2 separate regions of the Homo sapiens genome follow, and region 1 is linked to region 2. The links come from fine-mapping of genetic effects on gene expression. A gene starts in region 2. The other region holds a variant in brackets. All regions are shown on one strand. Distances are between the middles of the regions.

Region 1 (13,923 bases), 25 kb after region 2:
TGAACATAACACAAAATAAAACATTTGGGAGATAAAAACAGTGGAGAGATCACTTGAGGGATTCCAAAGAGAGCAGAGGCAGGAGGTGTGAGTGGGTACTCTCCCCTTACTGAGGACTGTCCTTTCCCTTCTCAGGAGCTACTTCTGTCTCTGAATTCCCTCTCCCAGCTTGCTCCCAGGTAAAGAACTGACTCATGATTGGGCTGCCTGTGGACTTGGATTTAAAGTGGCACTTGTTCTAGGGGTGTTAGCATTTAAATGGGGACTTAGTCTTAAACTAATTATGGAATTGTAGGCTTCAGAAGATACATAGGCAAAAATTCTTGGAGCAAGAGGGATGGGAAGGCTGACCGTCTACTTGTAGGGCAGCCCCACCTCTAAGGTGCATCTCCCTTCCTCTCTGTTCCCTGAATGTCCAGTACAACCGCAAGCTCTTACACCCTTGTCATTTGACTCCTCTGCTGTAGGTGTAAGATCATACACCCCCATGAGAGCATGAAGTAGAACTATCTTATCTTAGATTGCTGAAGAGGAGGAAATCCAGGCTTTCCTAGAGATCATGAGCTGGCAAACTTCATCTGTTAAGGATATTTTGGGCTTTGCAGGCAAATGGTCTGTCAGAACTACTAATCTCTGCAACAGAAGCATGAGAGCAGCCATAGGAAATAAACAAACAATGGGCTTGGCTTTGACCCCAGGCTAGAGTTTTCTGACCCCTTTCTAAAATTGCTTGAGTGTCTGCTGAGCTGGGAGGCCAGGGTCAGATGAACTGCTGACAGCTGAGAGTTTCCTCTAAGGTGGTCCCAGGAGAGGGGTATATGCCTTGGCCCTTGGGTGGTGAGATCAGGATGAGTGGTATAGGGAGAGAGTATACCTTAAATAGGTCTCTTTATGGCTTCTGAAACAGTGATAGATGGTTTTGTTTCTGGTAAAACAAAGTATTTATGTTATTTAAAAAAAATACTCCTAAAGGTGATGTTGGCCTTTCTTGACGTGCAAACTTGTACACTAACGTCTTATAAGGCATTACTTACAAGTCTTCCTGCCGTAAGTCATTGCTGTTGCCTGAAGGTTCTCTAGCTTATATTTTTCTTTGTGTTACTGGGAGCTTGTTCTAGAGAAAGTCCTGCGTCTTTTTCTACACTGTGGTCTGAGGATCCCTGGAGCTTAATTAGGCCCCTGACAGAGTCGTCTGGGTTGGGGGCGGCAGTGAGCAGTCAGGGAACAGCAGAGATACTGCTGGGCTCAGTGGATCCTTTCCAAGTTCTCCAATTCTCCTTTTTTCTCTTTTCTAATTTCTTTTAAAAATAACTTCGTTGTACCTTTCCTGAGTCACTACATGCTCGGTGTTAACGTTGAAGACTAGCATTTACTGAGTGCCCAGCGTGTCTCGGGTACATAGACACGTGGCCTGTATGATGTCATTTAATCTTCACCATCACCCCATGAAGTCAGAATCGTGTCCACTGCAAGCTGTGCTGGCCAGTACAGTAGCCACTAGCCACATACGGCTATTTAAATGTAAATGTAAATTAATTGAAATTAAATACAATTGAAAATTTAGTTCTTCAGTCACACTGGGCACATTTCACAAGCTCACTTGTCACTGTGGCCAGTGGCACCAAATTGGACCACACAGAACATTCCCATCATCACCAAAAGTTCTTTCTGACTGTGCTGCTATAGAGACTCTTGGGGGTCCAAGGCCCAGATCTTGTCCAAGGTCACAAGCTATGAAGTGGCAGGCTGGAATTCACACTCAGCACAGCAAGGCCACTGCTCATCCCATGGCCTGTCACATTCAGAGGCCTGACTGGCATCTGCTCCATGCCGACCTGCTCTCAAGGAGATGCTGGCCAAGCACCTCCATCCACTCTGATTTACAGTGACTGGGGCTCCTGCAGGGATGAAGACGTAAGTGTGCTTGACTCTGTGTTTGAATCTGGTGGGCAGAGGCTTAAGGAGCCTCCGGTTTAGAGGAACTACACGGGCCTTTTCTGGCCACTCAGATGAATAAGCTGTAGTCCCAGAGTGTTTCGGCCACTTGGCAATCCTGAGCCTGTGCACTCCTTAGTTCAGTGGATGTGCGTTCATCGGCTCGGACATGGCTTTCAGGTATTAATGCATTGACTGACGCCTCTCTTGCCCCACCCCCCATATTGCTTCCCACATCACAGGAGAACAAGTCAGTTCAATATGGTTCGGCAGATGTTTACCCAGGAGCACCTGTGTGCCAGGCCCTTTGCAGGGCGTTGGGACTGAAGAGGAGTTTAACTCCATTCCTGTCTTCTGGAAGTTCCCAGCCTAGCTGGGGCTGGAGGTGGGGTAGGGTGGGGAACATATACATCAGTAACCGTGATAAGGCAGGGTGGATTAAGTGACCAGAAGAGGTATGAACAGTTTTTGTATGGTGGGCCTGCTATTAAGATACCTGTTTCTACCTGTAAAACACTCAGGATACCAAATAGGTGGGGTTTTTCCTCATATCAATGACCAATTCTCCAATGCTCCAGATAACAGCTGGGTGTCCTACAACTTAATTTTGACATTACCCAGAATTAACCCAGACCCCACAGCTTTAAGGGCTCAGTCTTAGCAAACTGTCCCCCACTTTAGATACAAGTATTGGATGCTGAGGGACCTCTGTCCAAGTTGGCTACAAGTCAGGAGTTCTCACGACTCCCTACTCAGGTTCAGTAATTTGCTAGAATGGCTCACAGAACTCAGGGAAACACTTATGTGTACTGATTTTTATAAAGGAGATAACAAGGACACAGATAAACAGCCAGATGAAGAGGTCTGGAAGGGTCCTGAGTACACAGGAGCTTCTTCCCCCATGGAGTTGGGGTGCGCCACCCTCCTGGCACATGGATGTGTTCACCAACCCAGAAGCTCTATAAACTCATAGTTGAGGGGTTTTATGGAGGTTCCATTATGTAGGCACCATTGATTAAATCATTGACCCCTGGTGACTAGCTCCATCTCCAACCCTTTGATCACATGGTTGTGATCCTCTGTGTGGCCTTCAGCCCCCATCCTGAAGCTTTCTAGGGGCCACCACCAGTCACCTCATTAGCATAAACTCCAGTATGGTTAAAAGGGGTTTATCATGAATAACAAAAGATGCTCCTCTCACCTCTAATGGGAAGTTCCAAGAGTTTCAGAAGCTCTGTGCCTGGAACAGGGAGGAAAACGAAATATTTCCTCTTGTATCACAGTGTCATGTCAGGGTGTCCAAAAGAAGGCAGAGGTCTTCAGGAAAGTCTGTACAAAAGGCATGGCCTCCTCTCCACAGAGAAGGGCAGGCCCTCCCTCAGGCAGTAGCCATGGCCAAGCCCTCCCACTCAGAGGGAGCCACTGAGCAGAGACGTGGAAGGAGAGGGTTTTCCTGGAGAGTACAGCATGGCAGGGGCAGTGGGTGGCAAGCTGGGGAGCACTGAGTAGCCTCTGAGAGTTGACCGGAGCCCTGAGGCACGGGGCCTTACATCAGCCCCTGCGGGTCAGACTCAGGCTGGATTGGTCCTCCCCAGGCCTAGACGGGAACACAACACTGCCTGCTCCCTCTTAGCGGGCATCACTAGGTACAGCCAGGATTGGGCCCAAAAGGCAGTCACTGGATTAGGACCCAGTTCTCTTGTTCCTGGGACTTTTTAGGAGTGTCTCTGAAATTTATCCCTTAAGTAAAAAGAGCATTCTTTAAAACCTACAGAGCCATCGCAGTCTAAGAGCAGGGCCTGGGGTGCTGTGGCAGGTCTTGCCTTGAAGGAGCCGTCTTCCCACAGCTCAGTGTGCTCCAGGGCTTGCTGGCAGGCAGCTTCCACGGGGTCCTGGAGGCTCTGGGGGCATAACAGAAATGCTATCAGGGAGTTTGAGGGCCCGTTATGAGTCTGACATACATTGGCATTTTGTGCATGCCTTTAATTGTCTGACATATTGTGGTACTGAGCTGTGACATGGGAACGATTACTAGACCTGCTTTTGCTCATGAAGAAACTGAGCTCAGAGAGGGAAAACTTGTCCATAAGGAACAGAGCTAATAGTGGTAGGCTGGGGCTCAAGCCTAGGACTGGCTGACTCCAAAGCTCTTCCTGTCTCCCTTGCTCTGTGTGCTTCTAAAAGATACTTAGTCCAAGTCCAAAATATGCTCATTTCTCTTCCCTCAGGTGAAGAAGTCAAAGGAATCTTTTGAAGTGAAGAAAGTGGGTTTGGACGTGCCCTTATGCTGATGAATCATTGGAGTAATATCTGGGGTTTAGCCGCATCCTTGGTGGCAAGGCGGTGGGGAAAGCCCCTGAGGGTGAGGCCAGCCTGAGCCCCAAGGGAAAGGGGCTGCTGGGACCTCCTGACCTCAACTCATCTCCAGGAGCGCACAGGGCCTCGCACAGATGCCTCAGTCTGTACCGCTGGGAGTTCGTGCCATCTCAGACCTACCCTCCCTACCTGGGCTGTACCTAAAGAGATACTGCTAGGCTTTCTCTAGAATGTTTCATGAGCCAGCACTGTGAGACATTTTCAAGCTAAAAACATACAGTTCAGGAGACTGTAATCTGTGGTAGAAAGTGTTCACCATTTGCTGCTAGTAAAGACGGTTGGCCCTGTGCTTCTCTGGCCACTTGTGCCACATGGTGTTCTCGGAAGAGGCCTCTCCATGCACCAGTGTGGAGAAGCCCTCTGGAGGCCAATTCAAAGAGCATCTGAGGCTAAGCAACTGAAAGGAAAAGGCCTGATGGCCAACGTGTTGCTTTCTGTGGAATGTTCCAGACTGGATTGCTGGGGGTCATTTTCTTTAACAGCAGCCTAGACAGGCAGTGACTCTCTTTTATTCAGCCAGGTGTTGAAATAGCTGCAGGGAAGCCACAGACAGTTGTTCCAGCTTTCCGGATCAGAGAGCACTGGTTGGGCCCCGTGCCATGTGGCCCCAGCCCCATGGGATCGCTCCTCAGGTCATGGAGCCACACATCAGTGTGGAGGGTTCGCTCCAGGGGTTCCTGGTACAGGATGCAGATGGGTCTTGTCTGGCTCCAGGCTTTTTGTTTCTAATGTTGTTTCTAGAGAGTCATCATCACCGCATAAATGGTATCAAAGCCCTTCTTTTAAAAATGTAGAAATAAATGTAAATGGTAGATCTTGACATTGCTTGTGGGATTAAGTTCTACAAAGAATAGTAATTATTTCTATGGGTGGCTGACAATTAGCTCTTTAATAGAATAGGTGGCTCCTGCCTGTTTTCAGTGAAGACATTGAGCTGTACCCACAGTTTGTTTGTAAGGAGACAGAAGTGAACCTCTGAGTCGTTGTTCATTAGAAGACCCAGAACCATCAGGCTGGTGTCCCTGCTTTGCAAACACAAGACAGAAGAGATCAATGTCACTTCTGAGTGATCACATTGGTGTTTCAGTTAACTGACTCAAGGCTTGGTTGGATAGATATTAACATATTCTGACCTTATCTGGGAGAATACTGGTCTGCATTCTTTGCAAACTTCTGCCATTTCCTCTAATTTATTACCAGCATATCTATGGGTCCTAATAAATCTTCCATTTGCAATTAGAATATCCAAATAAAAATCCATGTTGACTGCTAATAAGGACCTTCACCTTGGCTTTACCAAGGCATTAATGATTTTTCTTTCTCAGTAAACTTTGATGCCTGATTTTAAAAGCTAAAAATCTACCTCTAATGCTTGTAGTAAACAGGCCAATTCATAGCTATGCCTATTTATTTTAGTTAACACTTAACTACTTTGTGACAGGCACTATTGTAAGTGCTTAAAGCTATTAATCCATTTAATCTGATAACTCATTGTTCTGATAGATTCTCCTTCTTTCCCAGATATCTCCTCTAATGGGAAAGTAATTACACACTAAATGGTAAAAGGTAGAATACAGTATAACTTTTGAAAAGAGAGAGAAACTGTGTGGGCAGAAAGATTGCACTGCAGTTTATTTGAAATGTCCTCCTGGATTGGGAAAATCTCTGCAGCCTGGCACACTTACTGGGCTTTTCTTCCATTCCTCCGATCAGCCTCCTCATCCTTATTATCAGCACTCAGGCGCCCACTGTCTGCTCGAACTGATTCTCATGGCAGTGCCCGAGAGGGGGAAGTCATTGTTAACTTGGAAGTTGTTACTGTTCTACAGATGTGTGCACGTCCTTCAGTAAGATGACATTTTAAAAAGTCAGTGTCATTGATGCAGGACTTTTTGCTCCTTAATTCAGCTAAATCTGGGTTCTTGTCTCATGACCAGGAAAAATTAGGCATGTGGACACATTGAAGGGTGAGAAGGGCAGAACTTATTAAGTGAAAGGAAAGCCCTCAGCTGGGCGCAGTGGCTCACTCCTGTAATCCCAGCACTTTGGGAGGCCGAGGCAGGTGGATCACCTGAAGTCAGGAGTTTGAGACCAGGTCAGGAGTTCTGGCCAACATGGTGAAACCCCATCTCTACTAAAAATACAAAAATTACCTGGGCTTGGTGGCCGCGTCTGTAATCCCAGCTACTCAGGAGGCTGAGGCAGGAGAATTGCATGAGCCCAGGAGGCAGAGGTTGTAGTGAGCTGAGATTGCACCACTGCACTCCAGCCTGGGTGAAAGAGTGAGACTCCGTCACAAAAAAAAAAAAAAGAAAGAAAGAAAGAAAAGCTCTCAACAAAGAGAGGGATTCTCCAAGCAGGTTTCTCCCTCATTATTGAATACCAGGGGTACCACACATGAGCTGATGAGGCCAGGCTCCTCCCCTGCGTAAGGTGCGAATCCTAGTGACTCCGCCCCGTTCCCCCAGCACGCACACGAGGATGCCCAGGTAAACCATAGGTAGTATCGGAAAAGGCAACATTTGATTGGTTAAAAGGCATTATTCGGAAAGAATCAATTGGGAAAGGGCAGACAAACGGGCAGACGTTCTGCCCCTGGGTCGCTGGTTTCATCTGGGACCAGCAATCTGGTCTTTCAGACTTCAGGCTGTTCTGGGCTTGAAGGTGAGGTCTCACCGGGGACCCTTCCCTATCTGCCTAGGCATTTGTCTGCCTCCTGCTTGTATCATCATTTTCTTAATTGCCTGCAGTGACTTTATCAAGCCCCCTCCTGAGCTGCGTAATAATAATACTGTGTTAGGATTTTCAGTGTTATTACTCATCATCAGCCCGGACAGCCCAGAATTCCAGGCCTTCTTCCTGTTAAACGAACGGAGAGCAGAGCCTTTGAGCTCCACAGTTCACTATCTCTGTGTCAGCCTTAACCATCCCATTGGCCTGTTGGGGCTGAAGATAAATCCCCAGGCATTAAGCATATTCCAAAAGGGAATAACTCCTTTGTCTTTGGCTTTTTGAAGTGGGCTAGTTTTCAGGACATGTAGTTGTAGATCTCTCCTCACCAGCAAAGGAGGACTCAGCCAGGACATTTTCAATTTTCTCCTTTCTGCTGACAGGGTGGTGCCTTTTCAGTGAAGTCAGCTGAGCTGGTTGGACATTTGTGGGCCCTGTGTGCCTGCAGAGCCAAGCTCTCTGCAAGGCACAGGTGGTGGAGAGATAGAGACAAGCAGCTGCCCTCAGGGAGCCGCGTACCCCTTCGGCCCAGCCTTGTGAGTCAGAGATAAGAATGAGCAGCTCAGGACTCCACTGGACCCTCACAAGAGGTGCTGCCAAGGGAAGATTCCTGACTCTTTCCAAGGCCCCTCGCACACCTGTGGGGCTGGGCTTGCTGAAAAACTGGACTGTAGTTCTCTTACTGGATCCCCAGGAAGAGCTTTGGCCCCTAACATCTTCCACCCTGCATTCCCCAACACACACATAGACACACAGAAACGGGGAAGAAAATTGCCTCTGAACATGGCTTTGAAAATATGTCTCTAGGGATGCAGAGCATGAAAACATTTCCTCGCACTGGAAGAGAGAAATCAGCAGGCATCTATTAACGAATTTAACAATCTCCCAATTCATTATTTTATTTTATGTTGGTACAGATATTTACAGAGCAGTTTAAATAAAGAAAACATTCACCAGTATGTAGCCTTTATACACTTGAAATTAAGTGGCCTGCAGTTATTCCTGTTGTTTGGCTGCTGCTTGCTAGAGGTGGTACTGGATGGAAAGGGGTTGTTTTGCTCCTTCCTCTCGTTGTAGTCACCAGAGAAGATGTGATCAGAGAGATCATAAGGATGTGAGAAAATATACAATGTGTATGAATAACGCCCATTAAAATTTCTTATGTCTTACGGATGGATGTGGGGGGTAATGGCTGGTTCTACTAAAATGCTGTGTTTTCACATTTGGGGAAGATTCTGGCATTTGACAACTTATCAGCTTTTTTGGACAGTATTGTTGCAAATTGGCATTCAAATCCTATGCTGTCCTCACTATTCTGCAAAGAGTTAAGGGCTGAAAATGCCCTTAAGTCTTCCCAGAGTGGAGATGCTGGGAGCAGAGGTTGTGGTGAAAGGAGAGGCAGGCCGTTCTTAGCAGGCTTCTCTCTCTAAGGCCTGTGCATTCGCCTTTTGGCACTTGGCCTAGTGGCTGTTGGTGTGGCTAGAAGAGGAGTGGGCAGTGAGCTTGTCTTTGTTGGGGGTGGCTGCAGAGCCACTCCTGGCTGCCGGTTACCGGCTGCCTCCTGAGCATGAGCCCTGGCTCATCTGGAGCCTCTTTAAAGGTAGAAAATGTTTGCCCCAGTGCCAGTCAGCACCAGGCCTGATCTTCACCTTCCTGACTTAGTTAAGGTGCAAAGTCTGCCTTCTAAATAGTGACTGCAGGCTAGGGAGTCACTTCAGGATCAGAAGGAGTTAAAAGAATGTGGCTAACTTGTTTGTGTGGATGTTCATTTTCTGAGCACCTCCACACACATTACCTCTTATGATCTTCATATAACAACCCTTCAAGTTCGGCAAGGTAGCAGGTGCTCTTCCTGTTTACAGATGCTGAAACTGAGTCCTAGAAGCAGAGCCAGGCCTGGAGCCCAGGGCTGCTTCCCCCTTCCCAAAGCTGCCCCTCCCCATTCCCCTGTGCACAGGCACTGGCCCTGAGTTTTCACAAAGCCTGGTTATTTATTCACAGGGGAGTCCTCAGCACTGCCTCTTCTATTTCCCTGTGGAAACCTCAAAAGAGAAATCCTGCCAAAAGCGCTCAAGGACAAAGGCGAGTAGAATGCTTTGACTGCATCCCTTACCACTTTGGGATCCACCAGGAGCCTTTGCAGTGATAGAAGTGGGTGGCCCTGCAGAGAGCACACAAGGGAGAGCAGGGCTGGGTTGGATAAGCCAGGCCAGGAGACACAGAGACCATGCTCATGGGAAGAGTGGACGTGCAGTCTGCACTTTCCTTTCTTTGGATCCACTCTTCCCAGCTTGTTAGCTCAAGCTAGGAGCACACAGTGTGTCTCCAGTCCTTCACCAAGAGGACAGGAGATCGAGATGTGGAGGTGGCCCCTGGGCAGATAACTGAGGTGACAAACCATAGAATTGGTTCCACATGTAGAAGAAAGTCTACAAATGTAGCCGATCTTATAATAGCATGCAGCACCCTCCAGCCGAGCCACACAAGCTCCACCTGCCCCTCCAGCTCCACCTGCCGTGGCTCCCAAGACTGTCAGCACCTAGAAACCAGTTCTTGCCTCTGAAGCATGCTGCCGTCCTCGATGCAGATGTCTTAGCTGTCACCTGCGCACCTTTTGCTGTCACATAGTTAGTCTGGGAGCAAAGTCTATCAGTGGTTTGGAGTACCAGCTTTCGGATGAGATAAAAACAGATTTGAATTCTCCCTCTTGCTGTTTATTAGCTATGTGAATGAAGGTAAGTGATGTAATCTCTCTGTGCATCAGTATCCTTATCTGTGAAATATGGTTATCTGTACATAACCATGGTACCTGCCTCATAGAGGTGTTCAGAGATCATGTAGCATGACACCTTGTTCTCCAAAGGCAAGCTCTCCATGGAACTATGACTGTTACTGTCTCTCCCAGGGTTTTGAAGCTCTAATAGTCCACATGAGCAGTGTGACCCAGGATGACCTTAGACCTTGTAACTTTCCCCCCGTATTAAAATGGAGCTAGATCGTATCCCTTCTACCCATATCATCTGTCTTCTAAAGCTACCAGGAATAAAGGCAGAGGACATTAGGTAATAAGATCAGCAAAATCATTAGCTTTTCGGGAACAAGAAAATACCAGGATAAAATAAGAGAAAGCTTGGTCTCAGTTACCCTTAAAGAAATAATATATAAATCAGAGGTTTGATACTTCAGTTTATTTCTTTAGTTTTCAGGGATATGAAATGGCAATAGGTTGCTGTTTTATGCTGAAGTTATCATTTCTTCTGAGAGAGTTTCCCATTTTATTTTCAGAAGCCTGAGTTTTCACTACTTTTCACCTACCATCTGGCTGCCCCTCATAAGTCAATATCTGACTGAAATTGCGTGAGTCCCTTCAGTGCCTAGCGCCTCATCACCAGCCCTGAAAACCCCTGGGAATATTCAGAGT[C/T]GCTGAATGGCACAGGGAGGAATGTGGGAAAGTCCACGGCTTAATCAGTTCTTGTACAAGTGGACACACTGAGGCCCAGAGAGGGGACGCGTGGCCATGTGGAGGCACAGCTGGAGTGCAGCCGGGGATCTGGACTCCAGGCCTCTCCCAAGAGCTGCCCTTCCTACACTTGCTGGTGTCATGCAACCAGTCTGTGTGGGATCCATGGAGTGACTAGGGACGGCCTTGTGTGGACAAACCTACATAAGCCTGGGAACAAAAGGCATTCTGGGTACAAATGAAGGCTTTGGTTTCTGGGCCTTTGTTCTTTTTCTGCCGTCTCAGCCTCCTCTTCCACCGGACCACTCCACAGCGTTTAGCAGGCTGCAGAGGACTGTTCAAGGCCTCTCTGCTGAGTCTGGCCTCTCAGCTTCCAAGCAGCTCGTTCCAGGAGGGTGGTGCTGTATTGGGAGGTTTCACCAACTGTGCTGTGAAGTGGTGGAGGCCCCATTGTGTGCCCAGTGCGGTAAAGTCTTTCCTGCTTTTGATTGTGCCCAGGGATTGCCATGGAAAGCATAACTGTGTATCAGACAGTTGCACACCCAGGAATCCAAGGGAACCTGAACAGCTACTATTCCCAGCAGGTACGTGGCGTTTGGGGGCGGTTCTGGCAGGGTGGGTGCCCAGGTGGGGAAGCAGAGGGTGAAGGGCACGAGCTGATAGATGTTGGTTCTATATGTGGTTTCACTGTCCCCAGCTGTCACCTGCATGCCTTTTCCTGTCACATAGTTGGTCTGGGATTCTAGAATTAGGAATGGAAACAATTTTGTGGTTGTTTCATGAAATGTCTATTGCAAGCTGGTTTGAAATCAGTGATTTCGGTAAGAGGTGCTTGTAGTAGGTGGTCTATGAAATCTCCCTCTTTGGAGAGATTAATGTGGTGACTTTGAGGAAGTGGTAAGTTTTTATAGGGGTTAAAGGAGATAATTTACGCAAAGCTTTTTGTACAGCATCGAAGATACATACAACCCTGAGGTAAATAGTGGCCTTGATGTTATCATTGCTATTCATCATACGGGGATGCTGGTGGAGCTGGAGGGGCAGACACTGGAGAGGGAGGCTGAGCCCATAGTGGGAAGAGCTGACAGTGGCCACCAAGGAGTCTGGATTGAATTTGGGAGTCCGTGGGGACTGTTGGAGGACTCAGGCAGGAGAATGGATAGCTCTTGCTTGAGTTCCTTGATGTCTTCAGCATTTATATGCAGTAAAACACCTCCCTTTCCTCTCCCAGGGCAAGCTTCTGAATGTCTTGCCTGGTATTGGGAGGGCCTGATAGGACAAACCAAATGCAAAAAGGCCAGGCAGGCTTGTCTGCTTGCTCTGCTTCCAGAGGGAGGGAGCATTGACAGGGAGCCAGCACTGCCTCACACCACTGCCTCATGTGATCAGTGCCGTATGACCACAGGAGCTAGAGGCATTGTCTAGGCTGCTGGGCACATGAGCTCCGGGATGCCCATGTCCTCTGGCCAGGCAGACACAGACCTGGGGCAGCACCAGCTTTCTGATGGCAGCCTGCTCTTTCCAACAGTTCCCTACCAGAATCCTGCCTCACTGGAGCAGAGGATGCCAGCATCAGCCGGGAACCACTCCTGTGCTAAAACCGCCTTGGTGGCCTGTGGCTTGAGGTCTTGATGCGGATGAAGCCGGAGGAATGTTGTCTCTCCTCAGTCTCATGGCAAGGACTGATCTTGTTTTCTGTTCCCCACAGGGGGTTCCAGCCAGCATCACATTTTTTAGTCCCTCTGGCCTCACATACAGTCTCAAGCACATTCAGGAGTTATCTGGTGACAATATCGATCAAATTAAGGTAAGTTATTCAATGAGCTTTTGGTCTTTTTCAGATTCTTTTTTTTTTTTTTAATCTTTATGAATTATCCTAGGGCTTCAATGTCAAGTGAGACACCCCTGGCCTAGCAGGTGCCTTAGAATTGGAAGGGCAGCTCTACCTCCTGCTGGGCTGTTGCACAGATTGCTCACCTTCTCCCAGCCCGTTTCCTCACTTGCAGCATGGGGATAATTGTCTCTCTGTGGCTTTCATAGACATGTGTATGGTCTTCCCTGCTTAGGATGAGTCTCAGGATTACATGAGGGAATTTGAGTAAAGTCCTGAATTAGCTCAGGGCTTGGTACAGGTGTTAACATCCTTTCCTTCCTTTCCCCCATCTTATGTTTGCCATTATTGTCTATTCTAAAAGCAGTCACCTTTTTCATATCTTTTAAAGGGTTTACATTCTCACTTACTAGGGACTGTATTTATTATGAGTCTACAAATAACCACAACTCTTGTGTCTGTAATAGAAACACCCTTGAACTGGCTCCAGAGGGACTGAGGAGAGGGTGCAGGATGTGACCCAGAGCCCAAGGACAGACACTGCCACTCACTGCAGTCAGGAAGAGCAAAAGGCTTCACCTGCCTTCTCACAGGTGCATCTCATGTGGGGAGTATGCACCGCTCTCCCAGTTTTAAAGATGGAGCACGGGGCTCAGAGACATCATATGGCCTGTCTGTAGGTCACACTGCTGAGAAGGAAGAGCTGCAGTTGAACCTGGGAAGACTGATTCCACATTGTCAGCCATGGTGATGCCTTGCCATGGTCTCAGGAGCTGCTGAGCAGTTGATGCACTTCTGGGCAGTAACTGATACAATTCTCACACCAGTCCAGTGGTGGGTATCCAGAAAAAGAGGTCAGTGTTCCTCATTACAGGTGAGGACACTGAGGGCTAGAGAGGTGAAACAACTTGCCAAAGTCATGTTTTGAGTTCCTAGAAGGCCCAGGACTCACACAGGTCACCGAGGAAGAAAAACAATATCTGAATCTTGTGGTTAGAAAGATTAGAGAGAGGCCGGGCGCTGTGGCTCCCACCTGGAATCCCAGCACTTTGGGAGGCCTCAGGCGGATCACCTGAGGTCAGGTGTTCCAGACCAGCCTGTCCAATATGATGAAAACCCCGTCTTTACTAAAAATATAAAAATTAGCTGGGCATGGTGGCATGCGCCTATAATCCCAGCTACATGGGAGGCTGAGACAGGAGAATCGCTTGAACCCTGGAGACTGAGGTTGCAGTGAGCCGAGATCGCGCCACGGCACTCCAGCCTGGGTGACAAGAGTGAAACTCCGTACCTGCCCCATAAAAGAAAAAAAGAAAGAAAAAGAAAAATTAAAGAGATAGGACCCATAAAGTGCTTAGCATGGCAACTGGTCCATATGACCAGCGCTTACGTCATATTGCAGGTCAGGATGGGTCACGGTGCTGGTCCTGCTCTGGTTCTTGTCCCTCTGTGCCCTGCTGCCTCTCCCCTGGGCCTGTAGGAGGAGTCCCCACCTCCACCCCACCCACCCACCCCCAAGTCACACAATGCTGTGAGATGCCTGGTGGTATAAGCCTAACACAGTTTTCCCCAAGCTTCTTAGTGTTTGCCT
Region 2 (15,828 bases):
AAAAAGAAAAAAAAAAAGATAGGGTCTTGTAATTTTGCCCAGGCTGGCGTGCAGTGGCTATTCACAGGCACAATCATAGTATATTGCAGCCTGGAACTCCTGGCCTCAAGCATTCCCCCTGCCTCAGCCTCCTGAGTAGCTGCGACTACAGGCGTGCACCACTGCGCTTGGCTCACTTCAGCTTTAACAGGACTAGGAGAAAGCAAATCACCCTCCTATAAAACCAAATAAATGTGAGCTCCAGCTGATCAGAAAAAAAGAAAACCAAAAAAAAACAAAAACCACTTAAGGCACCAGAAGCACAATCTGAGCTACAGCTGAGAGAGCAGGGAGCAGGAGATAAGAAGCATCGAATCCCTAGGAAAAAACAGCAAACGTAAAGGTTTCCAGAGTAGAGTTGCATTCCTACAGCTATTTAAAGGAAAACCACAACGCAAGGGCTATGACCTCTGAGAAAGAATATTCTATAAAGAACCTGTCTAGGTCAAGTGCTGTGACTGACACCTGTAATCCCAACACTGGGAGGCCGAGGCAGGAAGATCACTTTAGCCTAGGAGTTCAAGACCAGCCTGGGCAATGTAGCAAGACCCTGTCTCTACCAAAAAAAAAAAAAAATTTAAATTAGATAGAAATAAATAAGAGAATCTGCCTATATTTTGTCCTCTGTTGCAAAGCACAGACAATACAATTCTTAGTACACTCAGTTTGCTAGATTTCACAGCTACATTTGAAATATTTTTGTAAACTTAAAACTTCTGGATTAAAAAATAGAATAACAAAAACCCTGAAAAGCTAGCCACAGTATCAGGACTATGGTTTCATTTGTTATGAAACATACCAATAGAATTTGGGAACTTTACCAGTTTTGTTATTGTTGTAATTGTTCATTATTTTATTCATGTTGCAGAAAGCTATCTGTGAAGGTGAAAAACTTCAATCAAATGGGGATGCAAAGTCTATATGAAATTATCTACTTATATATCACTTAAATCTTAAGTTAAAATTTCATGATTATTGTCACAAACTCTTCAAAAAGCCAGTTGTTAATAATGTATGTACTTCACAGGATGTTTCTTCCACTCCCCTCACACTAAACCCACTTAAACCAAGGACAGAACTCTTTCTATATCTACATATTCTACTTAAATGACATTTAGGAATCTATTTGAAAAAAAAATTACTGTTCAAAGATATTTTCCCAGAATCTCTTACTGAAGCTGCTGGTACATGGGCAGAGCGATCTGTGGAGGGACATTAATGAATCTTTCACTTAGGAGAAGGCCCACAGGCTTGGTGGTGTCATTTAAAAACTTGTCCAGCTGTTCAACCATGCTCTTTTCACAGTTCTTCTCACAGAAGCGTAGAACCAACTCTTGAATTTGTTCAACACACTGGGTACCCTAGAAAGCAAAGAGAAAGCTTGTTTCCTATTACAAGCCATCACATAGAGGACAAAACCTGAGAGTAAAAGCTATCACTTTTCATCTTACAGCTAAGGGCAGTTTCCTGCCATAGCCTTAACGTCTTGTATGTCTTCAGTGTTGACTGCTTAAGCATTTCTCAAAAGTAAATACACTGGTTATTTACCATCCCATGATGAGTGGTAAGAGAGTCATAATTAACATTCAGACACACTGGAATGGCAACTCTAGTCCATCTCATAAAGATAGATGGAAGTAACTGGACAGTTTATTTCAAAATTAAAGACTAAGTGTAGCCTGCATCTTATTCTGAGGTGGGTAAGCAGCTGGTTTACTTTTTATTACAACTCATCAGAGAATCAATAAAAAGAGATGAATCGAAACAAAATAAAATGTCAGTAAATGCCCTCAACATTGAGGCAGCAAAGCCTGAGAATATCCCCACTACACAAGTAGCAAAGATAACAGCTGCAGAGAGACAGCACAAACAGCTCCTGCATCAGTACCAACATCAGGACTGCAAAGCCAGATGATTCCCTAAACCACAGGGAGTAAACAACTTTAACTGGGTACAGACCCAACACCACCACCTTCATATTGAAAAAGGATTACAATAAGATTTCACAAGAGCACTTATCCCTATAGTTAATATCACTGTTTAACATAAAAGACATTTTCACCATGCATTAAATAAAAGTGGTTTTGGCCTAAGAAATAACCATTCAGATGCCATCCAGTGAAACCAACCTTTCTTTCAGTTAAATTTAAAAGGCTTATGAAACCAAAAACCTCATCTTCATCCATATCATCATTGCTGTCTTCTGAAACATCCGTTTGCTATTTTAAAAGAAAAAATATTTAAATGTTATATTTAGTATAATACCAAGAGTATAAAACCAAGTCTTGGGATGTAGGCCTCATTTATCTTTTCACTTTTCAAAAGCAAAACTTTGTTTTACCACCGCCATCTTAGAAAGCATTGTATTTTAAATACTGTCACAGTTTTACCACCATCATCTTGGAAAGCATTGTATCTTAAATACTGTGTGACCTTGTTCATTTCGCTTTACCTCGACTCTGTTCCTCTTTTCAGATTCTGAACAGATTGAAATTTCTTTGTACCAGATTAAGTCATTTTCTTTTATCAGATTCTCAATATAATACAAATCCAGAAGAGATAAACCTCATGAAATAAAGCATTTTCATTTGTTTTCTACACAATTAGGCTGGAGCCAAGCCTTGCTTCTCTGCTGGCCCACAGCATTGTTTCATCTAAAACTCATGAGTTTCCAGAACACTTGTCAGTCTTGACCATTAGTGAAGCTAGGCAATGCTTGAGGGCCACTTACACCTATCACATTAGCAAGAGAGAAGGGGAAAAAAGAGAACCCCCTGCCCTTTGTTCTATGATCCTAGGGACTGGCTCCACCGAACACTATGGGTAGTCCCTTTACTAAGAACAAGAAGTCTCTATCCTCAGGACACCTCAAGTGTCTCTGGAGAATCCCAAGAAGCCACAGTTACAACTGCAGAGCTATTGATGTGATTATCCATTTAAAGAGTGAATCCTGCCATTAGATAATAACCTCTTTCAAGGATAAAAATAACTGCTTCTCCTCCATATCCATTAGGTCTTCTAAGACACGAATCAGCTAGAGATCACATTTATTTGATGAAAGGGCAGGTGGTCTGCTTTTTCCCATTGCCCTAATAAAAGGAATGCCCCATAGGTTTAATTTCTCATTTTCTTTACATTGAGTGCCATAAAGTTACTAATATTGTCAGAAGCCTTGAAAAGTGTACACTGTATTTAGTAACAAGTATGTTGGTGACCCTATCACTCAGTGTCCGAATTTTAGTGGTGTAAAAGTCAGATAAGAGTGTCTGAAGAATGAATAGGAGGACAGGAAGTAGAAACCATGACTTAAGATTACTTTTCAAGAATTTTGGCTCTGAAGGTGATGTACTTAAGAGTGGAACATTAGACTGAATGGAGCTTTTGTTTGTTGTGTTTTTCACAACAGGCTAGGGAACAGGTGCTAGGAACAGGAAAAAGACATCAACAGTGACAGCTACACATATGTAGCACATGTCAGCTGCCAGACACTGTTTTAAGCAGTCAGCAATTCATTTTGTTTACCCATGCACTCTACAAGATCGGTGCTAGTACCATCCTCATTTTCAGAGACAGAAATGGAAACAGATTAAGGTACTGTGGCAGACTGTATCTTTCACAGATGGCCCCAATGGATCTCTCCTTGGACATGCTCTTCTGACAAAGTGACCTAGGTACTTTTCTCATGGAGTGGTGGGATCAATGTGCCCTCCCCCTAGATAGAAATTTCTATCTGTAAAGACTAAGCAAATGGTGGAAATGGCACTATATCACTTCTGCCTGCTTCTTTTGGGCAGCTTGCTCTTGGAAGCAAACCAATGTGTGACGAGGCCCACATGGAGAAGAACTAAGGCCCCTGGTCCAGAGTCCCAGCTAAGCTCCCGACAGACAGCTAGGGCTAACTTGCCAGTCATGTGAGTGAGCCATCTTGAAAGGGAATCCTCCAGCCCCTAGTCAAGCCACCCCAGCTAACATGATGGAGCAGGAGCACAGATGAGTTGTGCCCACTGAGCTCTGTCCAAACTGTAGATCCATTAGCCAAATAAATGACTACTGCTATTTTACGACACTAAGCTATGGGGTGGTTTGTTATACAAACAACAGATAACCCAAAGAACCACCAGATGATAAGCAGCAGACCCAGGGTCTAAACCAGTCCTTATTTTGTTGAGCTCTCTACAACATCTATCTGATAAAGATGACCATCCCCTCCTCCTTCAAATGTTATCTTTCTTGCTGTGTATGACATCACTGCACTATTGTTTCTTCTACTTCTCCTGTCATCCCTTTTAATCTCCTTTGCTGGCTCTGCCACTTATATTACTCATCGAAGTATTCTTGGTATTACTAAGGTGTCTGTCCCTTCCCTCCCTGCGCAATCTCAATCACTTCTACGACCTCAGTAACATTTACGACCAACTCCCAAGTCTCCAGGGCTCCACCTGCTACCCGGTATCTCACAGGTAACTCAAACTCAAAATGTACAAATCCAAATTCACATTCCCCCTCCTAATTTGACCTTCCTCCATGTTTGTTATCCTGTTTGCTCAAGCTAGAAACCTGGAAGTCATCCTTGACTCCTTTTCCTCTCACTTTCAGACCCAATCAGGGACTAAACCTCATCATATTTCATCTCCCAAATATTTTCTAAATGAGCCCACTTCTCTCCCTCTCCATTGCCCCCACCTGGACTACTGCATTTAATAAGCTTGGATTTCTGCAATGACTTCTGATCAGTCTCCATTCCTCCAGTAATACTGCTTCCAATTTGAGCTAAACAGAATAAAGAACTTTTTTTTTTTTTTTTTTTTTTTTTCAGATATAGGGTCTTGCTGTGTTGCCCGGCTAGAGTGCAGCGGCACAAAGCTCACCATGGCCTTCAACTTCTTGGCTCAAGAGATCCTCCTACCTCAGCCACCTGGGTAAAAAGACTACAGGCATGTGCTACTATGCCCGGCTAATTTTTTGTTATTTTTTGTAGAGACAGAGTATTGCTATATTGCCCAGGATGGTCTTGAACTCCTGGCCTCAAGCAATCCTCCCACCTTTGCTTCCCAAAGTGCTGGGATTACAAGCATGGTGAGGCCCAGCATGAACAGAATAAAGAACTCATTTAATCAGAATAAACACAATTATCCTACTTACCTTAATCACACTCCCAATATGGTTCTGTTGAATTAAGAGATCTGTTAGTTCTGCAGTGTTCACAGGAGCCTTTAGAAAAAGCTAAAAGGAGGAAAAAATTATTTTAAATTAAGATCAAAGCATGATTTCTAATAACTTCAAATCCTATATTCAAATACAAACAATGAAATTTCTGTGACTTAAGATGATGATCTAGAAAAGCAACCCCAAGAGGGAAAGAAAAGCCCAGGAGAGTCAAAGAAGCTAAAGATTAGGAAATTTCAGAAAAGAAGAAGTCAGTAGTAATATAGAAGTAATGGGGGAGGGGGAGAAAAAAGGGAGAAACGAGAGAGGATAAACTTAAGGCCAAAGAATTTGGTGAAAAAGACGGTAGAGCTATAAAGGCTAAAGAACCAAAGTCATATTATATGAGTAAAAGAATAAGGAGAAGCAGCAAGCATCAATTTTATAGCACCAAACAGCACAGTTATATGACTGTTACATAAGAATTGTGAATTAAAAAAAAAAACAAAATAACTCTAATTAGCAGATGAAAGGAAATAATTCTTCCTTCCAGGCAAGGTGGAGAGGATAGAAATGGAAATTCTAAAAAGATGAACTTGGGAGAGCCTGTATTGAATGACCTGAATTTTCTTTTTTTTTAGAGACAGAGGCTCACTCTGTTGCCCAGACTGGAGCTCAATGGCACATTCATAGCTGCAGCCTTGAGCTCTTAGACTCAAGTAATCCTCCAGCCTCAGCCTCCTGAGGAGTTAGGACTAACGGTGTGTGCTACCACAGTTGGCTAATTTTTAATTTTTTTGTAGAGACAGGTTCTCATTATGTTGCCCAGGCTGGTCTCAAACTCCTGGGCTCAAGCAATCCTCTCACCTCGGCCTTCCAAAATGCTGAGATTATAGGCATGAACCACTGCACCCGGCCCCTGATTTTTCTTAGAAGAGGAAATTTATGCATAATAAATAAAAGACAATACCTGCTGCAGTAATTTCTTAATTCCGTCATAATCATTATCTGATAGGGAATAAGCTTCAAATTCAATATTCACTTCCTGTAAATAACACACAAAATAGTTGTTACCAGAAAAACTACAAACATCTAGACTTTAAAACAGGCAAACATTGCCAAGATTGCCATCTGTGAAGAATACAAAGCACCTTCACACTATTTCTTCAGGTGACACAAAAGCCTGAGAAAACAAAACACTCAGAGTAACCTAGTTTAAATGTTGAGAAAGTCCAGTTCAAATAAACCAGACACGGCAGCCACAAAGGATAAATTATTTTCCTGATTACAAGGGTGGGCAAAAATCAAAATCACTTCAAAAGTCCCTGGAATTGCCTAGAGCTTGACTTAGCCCATGGATTTGAGGTTACACTACATTTGCTTAGCAAATATTTATTAAGTATCAATCCAGGTACCAAGCACTGTGCCAGGCACTCAAGATGAAAAGGTTAGTAAGGCAGACACAAATGATCCTGCTCTCGTGCAGCTTACGATTTAGGAAGGAATATAGGCATTAAGGAAATATTCATAGAAATAAATGTAAGTGCTATAAAACAAAGGTACACAATGTTGTAACAACTTAAAAAATAAGAAGTCAGTCAGGAAAGCCTTCCTTGAAGTGACATTTGAGCAAGAAACCGAGAAACAGCAAAGAGAGTTCCTGGTACAGGGAACAGCACAAACTAAGGCCCTAAGGCAGAAGGAAATACAATGAGTACAAGGGACTAGAAGAATGAATGTGTAGCTGGGCTCCCTGATCTCTATCTGCAAGACAACAGAATCTAGAAGATGGAACTAAAATGCCAAAAACAAAACCTAGTTGCTTTTAAACACTAACAAGATTAGTCCTTGAGGACCCTAAATCAGACCTTGATAAGTGACACAATGAACCTGGGGCTCTGATGAAATAATATATTTAAAGGCACTTCAGGTTTTAACGGTTTCAGAATTTAGGTCTTAGCTGAAGAACATCGCAGAGGAAATCAGACCTCCTTTTACCTTGCCACCCTGACTATGTATATATTTAAGTCTTCCTTAATTGTAAAATTGCAAGGCCCTGGAATTGCTTAGAGCAATTCCAGCTCCAATTTGAACTCTTTAAGTCCAGCTTTGCAGACTTCAAATGCTAACTTAGCCAGATTATGTGAGCAGCAAAACACAAGGGGTCGGGTGGGAGTGTTCCAAACAGGATCAAACTAAACCAAATAACAAACTGTCATTATTCAGGACTTAAACTTATTCCTTAGATATAAATACATTCTGTAAATAATGCTCATCTAGTGTTTTTTTCTTTGTCTAGACAGACATCTCGGACCTCTGTCCCAGACTATTATGGCACCACCAGGGAAATGGGCGGCAAATGGATTATCTGTCCAGCACCCTTTTCCTGGGTATGGGCTCATCTCCACATGGCTTCAGCAGGAACAGTCACGTTTGTAGAAAAGAGCCCTGTCCCTCATTCCCAGGTGATTTAGAATTAAGACTGTGGTGGTGTGATAGATTTCCCATGTTAACACAAGCAGCATTGATTTCTATAACCCAAAAGTAATAAAAGAGCCAGTCAAAGTTCTAAGTGAAAAATGGTGAGATGGCATTCAAGGCATAGAGCCAAAGTAAAATTTGTAAGGGAAGGAAGATTGATCACATACCCACACCATGGTGTCACCTCTAATCCTGCATCCATGCTTCTCTCCATGCTCCCCTCCATGCTCATCATGACTCATGATTACCTCTCTGATTTTATTTCCTATCACTCTCTCTTCCTTATTCTGATCCAGCCATCTAGGCTGCCTTTCCGTCCCTCAATTGTGAAGACTCTTGATTTTCTTGTAAATGAACTAGAAAGCCAATGCAGCAATCTAAGCAGAGGCCTGAGATCAGACCTATAAGATCTCTCTGACTGTAAGTGGAGTATAGACTGATTGTAGGGGAACAAAAATGGAGAAAAGAACGCCGGTTAAAAGCTGTTACATTAAATAGTAGTCCAGGCAAGAGATGATAGAGGTGTGGACTACGATGGTCTCAGAATTAGTGCTGAGAAATGTCTGGATAACAGGATTTACTGATGGGCTGGATATAGGATGAGGAAAGGGAGGAATTAAAGTTAAGCCCCAGGTTTTGGGTTAGAGCAGCTGGTGACTTTAGGGGCCATTTATAGAAATGGTGACGATTAAGAGAGGGGCATGAATTATTATACAAATTCTGCTTTGGACAAGTTAAGGCTGAGGTATCTATTTAAACATTCAGTAGGCTGAAGGATCATTCAGTCCTAATTGTTTACTAAACAAATAATAAGTACCTATATTGCCAGGCACTACGGTAGGACCTAGTCTGAAGAAAGGAACACAGTTCTATGAGACTATGAAACCAAAGATTTACCCACGACTTGGTCAGCTGCCCCAGGAGCCAGAAAATACAGCCTAGCTGAGATCTGAAGAAGGAAGGGAAAACTGCAGGATAAAGAAGAGCATTTGAAAAGGCTTCTACGGTAGAACGCGGCAAGAGCCTTCAAGAAACTGAGGGCCCAAGTGAGTGCCGCCCGCAGAGTGAAGAGGAGGACAGCTGCTGCCCCGAGGGGAGAGGGCCCCCTCTGCGAGCCCGGGGTGGCCGATTCAGGATCTGAGGCTTCAGCCTGAGAACTAAAGAGGACGAGAAGAACACACCTGTTGTGGCGGGCTTTTTCGGGGAGGACGCGGGTTGGGAGATTAACTGGACCGGACTAGACCTTTAAAAAATAACTACTATGGCTGCAGTGTGTTAAAGACCGAGGAGAAACCTGAGAAAGAACTTATCTCCAGTTTCTCCTCACAGACCCTCAGGGTCAGGGAAGACCCTACACTATTTTTACACAGCCTGGGCTTGCCAAAAAGTTTTTCTCAGGTATAAACCAACTAGGGGAGCGTGTCCTTCTCACCTCGTCAATGACCTCGTCCTCTTCATCCTTTTCCTTGTCACTGTCATCATCGTCTTCATCCTCATTTTCGACTTCTTTTTCCTCTTCCTCGTCGCGCTGGACTGGGGGATCCGGCGGCTGCGGAACCCCACTTTCCACGGCACGCCGCTTAGACCTGGACGCCATGTTGCCGCTCACACTGCGCCTGCGCAGCTTCCCCTTGCCTGACCTTCCGGACCAGCCCATAGTAGCCAAGGGGGTGAGGAACTACGAAGAAGCTCGGCGCTGAGTGCACGTCAACCCCAATGCCCCTGCTGGATTCCGCAGCCATGACCCCTTACAGTCACGTCCAGCTTGCGGTCCCATCTTGCTTTTTTCTTCCGCTTTCCACCCTCCATCACTCCTCCCAAAGCTTCCCCTCCCCTTCCCGTAGTGGTTCAACCCATCTAACCTCTGGCCTCATTCCGTGGCCTGGATGGCGGTGCGCATGCGCGAGCGCCTAGCTGCGCGCAGCCACCCACGCGACCCCAGTCTGAGGTGCGGGGTCCTGGGGCCCGGCGCGGGTGGCCGCCGCGGCCCCTCGGGCTGCGTGGGGAGGGGGCTTCCGCCCCTGTTGTCATTGCTCCTGCAGCCTTTTCGCTGGGACTGCGCGACACCGCCCCCCGACCGGGTGCCCGCTGTGTGCCAGGCCGGGTGCTGGGCACGGTCCCGCGAGGTAGGTGTCGCCGCCCGCTGTACCGGTACGGACGCCGAAGCCCGCGGGCGTGCAGGGGCCCGGCCCCGGGCGGTGTGTGACACAGTGGGGCCAGGGCCCCGAGGCTTCCGCGGACCTGGGCCTGCCCAGGCGGGGATGTCCGCTGCCGCTACCGCTGCGCCGGTGACGGAAGGCGCCTGCCCAGCCTACCCTCGCCGAGCTTCTGGAGCGCATTTCTTGACCTAAAAGTTTTTTTAAAGCCGGCACCGCAGTTAAAAATGCTTCGGCGGGGGGCCGGGCCCGGTGTCTCGCGCCTGTAATCCCAGCACTTAGGGAGGTCAAAGCGGGTGGATCACCAGAGGTCAGGAGTTCGAGACCAGCCTGGCCAACATGGCAAAACCTCATCTCTGCTAAAAGTACAAAAATTAGCCGGGCGTGGTGGCGGACACCTGTAATCCCAGCACTTTGGGAGGCCGAGATGGGTGGATCACTTGAGGTCAGGAGTTCGAGACCAGCCTGCCCAACATGGCGAAATCCCATCTCTACTAAAAATACAAAAACTAGCCAGGTGTGGTGGTGCGCGCCTGTAGTCCCAGCTACTCAGGAGGCTAAGGCAGGAGAATCGCATGCCCCCAGGAGACGGAGGTTGCAGTGAGCCGAGATCGCGCCACCGCACTCCACACTCCAGCCTGGGCGACAGAGGTAGACCCTATCTAAAAAAAAAAAAAAATGCTTCGGGGCCAGTGGGGTAGTCTAGGTTAAAGACCCGAGCCTATTTGGAGAGAAGAGTGGAGGGGACTGCGGCCAACTGCAGAGCGAGCGCCAGCCCCTGTGGCAGGTGGGGATGCAGCCTGGGGCAGCCAGGTCTTCCCATTGCGAGAGAAACAGGGTTCATCAGCTTTCTAGGAATAAGATCTGCGGTTCTCAATTGATTTTTCTCTGTAAAATGAGGGGGGTGGGTTGGATATGTTTGATTCTAGGAATGGTGTGAGCTGCGCTAATAGGCTGCTTCTGTTTAAGCAGGGTAACATCTGATAAATCAGTGATCCTTCATCAGTACGAGATGGCGTGCCCTAAAGGTCCCCAGGAGCCCAGATTGCCCATAATCGTGTTCTGTGATTTCGGTCTTTCCTGGGAGTCTCTTGTCTACCCAGCCATGTCATGGATATTAAAGTAATACTTACACATCAGCGCTCCACATCTGATGGGGCAGCTTGAAATGGCCTCTTTGGGTCGCACAACTGCAAAAACATGTTCCTGTAATGGAGAAGAGAGGAAGCTGTCAAAAAAGACCCATCAAAAGGCTAAGATTAGAAAAAAGACTCAGAAAGACCATGTGAACATATCAACAGAGTTGCACTGAGATACCATAGCCAATTTTTTTTCCTGTTTCTTTATACTTTTTTTATGGTGGTAAAAGATACATAACATACATTTTACCATCTTAACTATTTTTAAAGATACAGTTCAGTGGCATGAAGTGCATTCACATTGTGCAACCATCACCACCACTATCCATTGGCAGAACTCTTTTCATCTAGCAAAATTGAAACTGTAGTTAAACAACTCCCTTATTTTCCCTCCATGACCTTTCTACTTTCCATCTTTATTAATTTGACTATTCTAGAAACCTCATGTAAGTGGAGTAACACAATATTCTTCCTTTTGTGACTATTTCATTCAGCATGATGTCTTCAAAGTTTATCCCATGCTGTAGCATGCATTAGGATTTCCTTCCTTGTTAAGGCTGAATAATACTCCATTGCATGTATAGACCACATTTTGTTTATCTACTTATCTGTCGGTAAACATTTTGGTTACTTCTACATTTTAGCTGTTGTAAATAATGTTGCTATGAACATGAGTATCAAATATCTGTTCGAGTCCCTGCTTTCAATTCTTTGGGGTATATATGTAGCAGGGGAATTGCTAGATCATATGGTAATTCTATGTTTATTTTTTTGAGGAACTATACTTTTTTGTAGTTTGCAAATCTTTCACAGTAAACAGGATCACTTTTGTAAGACAAGTAGGGGAAAAAGCCTTACTTTATGCCCTCAGATTAGTTCCCAGTGTTGAGCTCATGGTCAAAGTGTGAATTAGAATAGTGAATGTGAAAGTAAATACAGTACTGACCCTAGGGAACTGAACTCAGCAGGTAGTAGATTGCTTACCACTCGTTCAGTGTTCATCTTTAGCTCAGAATTTATCTTAATGAGGCAGAGGGATGGTAGCAAGTGGTTAGGAGACTGAGCATGGGCTTCAGACCAGGATCCAAATTCCATCTCTCCCACTTACTGTGCTGTGTGACCTGGGACAAGTTACTCAAACCTCCCAGGGACTTGGTTTCACCTCCTGCAAATAAGGCTAACACCACCTACCTTGCAGGTTTAAGTGAGGATTGCAGTCTTGCATGTAAAATGCTTAGCCCAGTGTGATAGTTACTTTTACATGTCATCTTGACTGGATCACGGATGCCCAGATATCTGGTTAAACATTATTTCTTGGTGTGTCTGTGAAGTTGTTTTCAGAAAAGATGAGCATTTGAATGGATAGACTGAGTAAAGTGGATTGCCCTCCCCAAAGTAGGTGGGCAGCATCCAGTCTGTTGAGGGCCTAAATAGAACAAAAAGCCAAAGAAGGAAGAATGTGTCCTGTCTCCTCCTGCATGCTTGATCTGGGATATCTTCTGCCCTTGGTGCTCCTGGTGCTGAGGCCTTCACACTCAGGCTGGAACCTACACCCTTGGCTCTCAGGCCTTCAGGCTACAACACCAGCCTTCCTGCTAACAAGTCTCCAGCTTGCAGACAGCAGATCATGGGACTTCTCAGCCTCCATAACTGCATGAGCTAATACCTTATAACAAATCCCTTTCTAGATGTAAATATATGCCATTGGTTCTGTTTCTCTGAAGAACTCTAATACACCCAGTAATTAACATGAGTAAATGCTCAGTAAAAGGGTGACTGTTGTTATTGCTGATACCCAGAACACCATGACATAGAAGGTACGGGTTTGAGGTTTGGTTCTTTCTTACCAGTAAGGTGCCCTTATTCCAGTCATTTTTTTTTTCTTTTCTTTTTCATCAATGATTGATGAACATAAGTATGAGGGTAAAATGGCAGAGCAAGCATTAGACTGTAAATCTAGAGACAGGTTGAGCCCTCTTTTTACCAGTGCCGAGGTGAGTTTCATGTTGGAAGCTTCAGGAGCAGCTTCATTTCTGCTGGGGCTTCTCCCGCCTTTTTCCCCCTCAATGGGAAATAACAGGTTTCGTTATTTTCATTGGAAAAAAAGGCAGAGGAAACCCCAGACACTGCACGGTTTTTAGGCCCTAGCCTCACCAGTCTCAAGCCTCCTATCAAGGAGGGCCATATAGTGCCTCTGATCTGCTTGATGCAGACCCTAGGGTCCTTCCCACTCCCATGAGCCACCCACCAGAGTGAGCTAAGAAATCAACTGGCAGAGAGCAGAGTCACGTATGGCCAAGAGGAATTGTTCTGGGGGTTGTTTAGTAAGCAGGAGAGAGGGAGGAGAAGAAAAACTGCACAGGGATCAGATGCCTCCAGCAGAAGAAAGCGAGGCATAGAGATCCCTTACCATCTGAGTCACGTGGCACCAAATATGTTACCAGTGGCAAATCAGTAGACACCTGCAGCAACCTCAATCTTGTCTCCTCAGAAGAAAATTCAACTGGGGGCATAAGGCAGAAAAAGTGACCGAGGCAAGCTTCAGAGCAGGAGTGGAAGTTTATTTTAAAAAACTTTAGGCCGGGTGCAGTGGCTCACACCTGTAATCTCAACACTTTGGGAAGCCAAGGCAGCCGGATCACGAGGTTAAGAGATGGAGACCATCCTGGCCAACATGCTGAAACCCCATCTCTACTAAAATACAAAAATTAGCTGGGCATGGTGGCGCATGCCTGTAGTCCCAGCTACTCAGGAGGCTGAGGCAGGAGAATCGCTTGAACCCGGGAGGCGGAGGTTGCAGTGAGTTGAGATTGCACCACTGCACTCCAGCCTGGGCGACAGAGCAGGACTGCATCTCAAAAAACAACAACAAAAAACTTTAGAACAGGAAAGAAAGTAGAGTATGCTTGGGAGAGACCTAAGCAGGCAACTTGAAGGACAAGTGCTCCATTTTACTTTAAGGAAAATTAATCATTCTTTCTGTTTCAAAGATGCTGGGTAAAATTGAAATTGTTGTTTTCCCACAAGGTGAGCAAATAATGAGCATCTACTACAGGAAAGAAAGTCCATCAAAAAAGCCAACAATGGAGAGGCTCACAGCCCCTTTCCAATGTACAGGAATCTGAAACTGAGACTGAGGCAAGAGCAGCCTAGACCAGAACCCAGACACTGGCCCTCCTGTGCAAACACCCTCTACTCCACCAAGCCTCTTCCTAAAGCCCAAGGTGGCGACATGTTAACCTATCTGTGCACGCTTCTCAATTGATTTCTTTCCCAATCAGCCTGATAATATGTGACTCTAGCACAGCAAAGAATCATCAACAACAGAACCTTTTAATTTTATATTATTATTATTATTATTATTATTTAGACAAGATCCTTCTCTGTCACCCAGGCTGGAGTGCAGTGGCACGATTATAGCCCACAGCAACCTTGAACTCCTGGGCTCAAGTGATTCTCCCACCTCAGCCTCCTGCGTAGTTAGGACTACAGGGATGCGCCACTATGCCCGGCTCCTTGTTAACAACTTTTAAAATTTTTGTAGAAATGGGGTCTCGCTATGTTGTCCAGGCTGATCTTGGACTCCTGCTCTCAAGCAATCCTCCTGCCTCAGCCTGCCAAAGTGCTGAGATTACCAGGCATGAACCACTGTCCTGGCCTAATTTTATATTAGAAATGCTTTCAGTGTTTGGGAATGATTGTATACAGGATTAAAAAAGAAGACAAATGCTTTCAGTGACGTCAGATAAAGGATAAGGGTAGTAGTTGGATTTTTATTTGCAACACATCTCAGGGAGCTCTTTATTATCCAGAAGCCTAAACTTCATGCCAGCATCGGTTTTATTACCTAAGAGAACCACAGATTAGAACCCAGGAGAAATATTTTCTCTGTTTACAATGGGTAGATTGATTTTTCTTTGGGGTGTTTGCATAACTAAACTAAGCACTTTGTACTACAGTGATACTTTATATTTTTATACCTCTATTTTTCCCAAACATTTTCGTATTCAAAGTGTATGTGAGGCATAATATAGCGTAGGGGGTTAAAAGCACAGACTTTGGAGCCAGACTGGTTGGGTGTGAATCCCAGCTCTGCCACGTAGCAATTCTGAGACTTTGGATGAGTGTCATCCTCTGTACACCTCAGCTTCTTCCTAAGCCTCGTAGGTGGACTTAATGCATGTGAAGCTCTTAGAATAGTGCCTGGGAGGCAGTAAGTTCAATAGATCTGTTCGCTGTTTTTATCTTCTTTGAGTCACTCAGCAACCCTAAGGCTTGGTAGGGCAGAGGTTATTCCCATTTAACATGGGAAAAAACAAGATCACACCATGGTTAAGTCATAAAGCTGAGACCAGAGCTCAGGTCCGTTGGCCCTTAGTCCTGTGCTTATTCTGTGACACCATACTTCCTTCCTTATATTATCACCTTAGAGAAGGGAGAAGGTAAAAGGGCAAGCAGAAATGAGGAAAAGAGAGGAGAAATACATCTATAAGGCTGGGTGCAGTGGCTCACTCCTGTAATCCCAGCATTTTGGGAGGCCGAGGCAGGTAGATCACCTGAGCTCAGGAGTTCGAGACTAGCCTGGGCAACATGGTGAAACCCTGCCTCTAAAAAAAAAAAAAAAAAAAAAAAAAATACATCTATAAACAAGAAGCTTCCCGTTGCTATTAAGATAAGAGCCACATTCCCTAATATGACCCAACGAGACCCAAAAGAATTCTAGTGTGAGCATCTTTATGTTAATCTTTGGACACATTTATCAGTATTGCTTTAGTATTCTTAGAAGTGAAATTACAGGAAGAAAGAAGATGAAGTATATAAAGCTTTTGATGTCAACAAATCGTTTTCCATGTTGTTAGACTCTCTTA

The links.
Region 1: its variant is fine-mapped to the expression of UROS in whole blood (TOPMed, PIP above 0.99).

Annotation. Positions count from the first base shown.
Region 1 is chr10:125,793,265-125,807,187 of GRCh38, reverse strand. It overlaps UROS (uroporphyrinogen III synthase), which reads left to right. Exons shown (of 10, transcript NM_000375.3): 7 at 9,043-9,123; 8 at 11,000-11,085; 9 at 12,210-12,308. Among named protein-coding and RNA genes, the nearest start is that of MIR4484, 20 kb to the left of the region's middle. The variant C/T (reference allele first, on the strand shown) is at 10,463.
Region 2 is chr10:125,816,992-125,832,819 of GRCh38, reverse strand. UROS (uroporphyrinogen III synthase) reads left to right here and starts at 9,562. Exons shown (of 10, transcript NM_000375.3): 1 at 9,562-9,791. It overlaps BCCIP (BRCA2 and CDKN1A interacting protein), which reads right to left and starts at 9,274. Exons shown (of 7, transcript NM_078468.3): 1 at 9,098-9,274; 2 at 6,155-6,229; 3 at 5,182-5,262; 4 at 2,169-2,258; 5 at 1,213-1,400. The coding sequence starts at 9,262. MIR4484 (microRNA 4484) reads right to left here and starts at 13,080; the gene lies at 12,998-13,080. RefSeq lists silencers at 8,510-8,729, 9,486-9,915 and enhancers at 9,206-9,405, 8,949-9,634.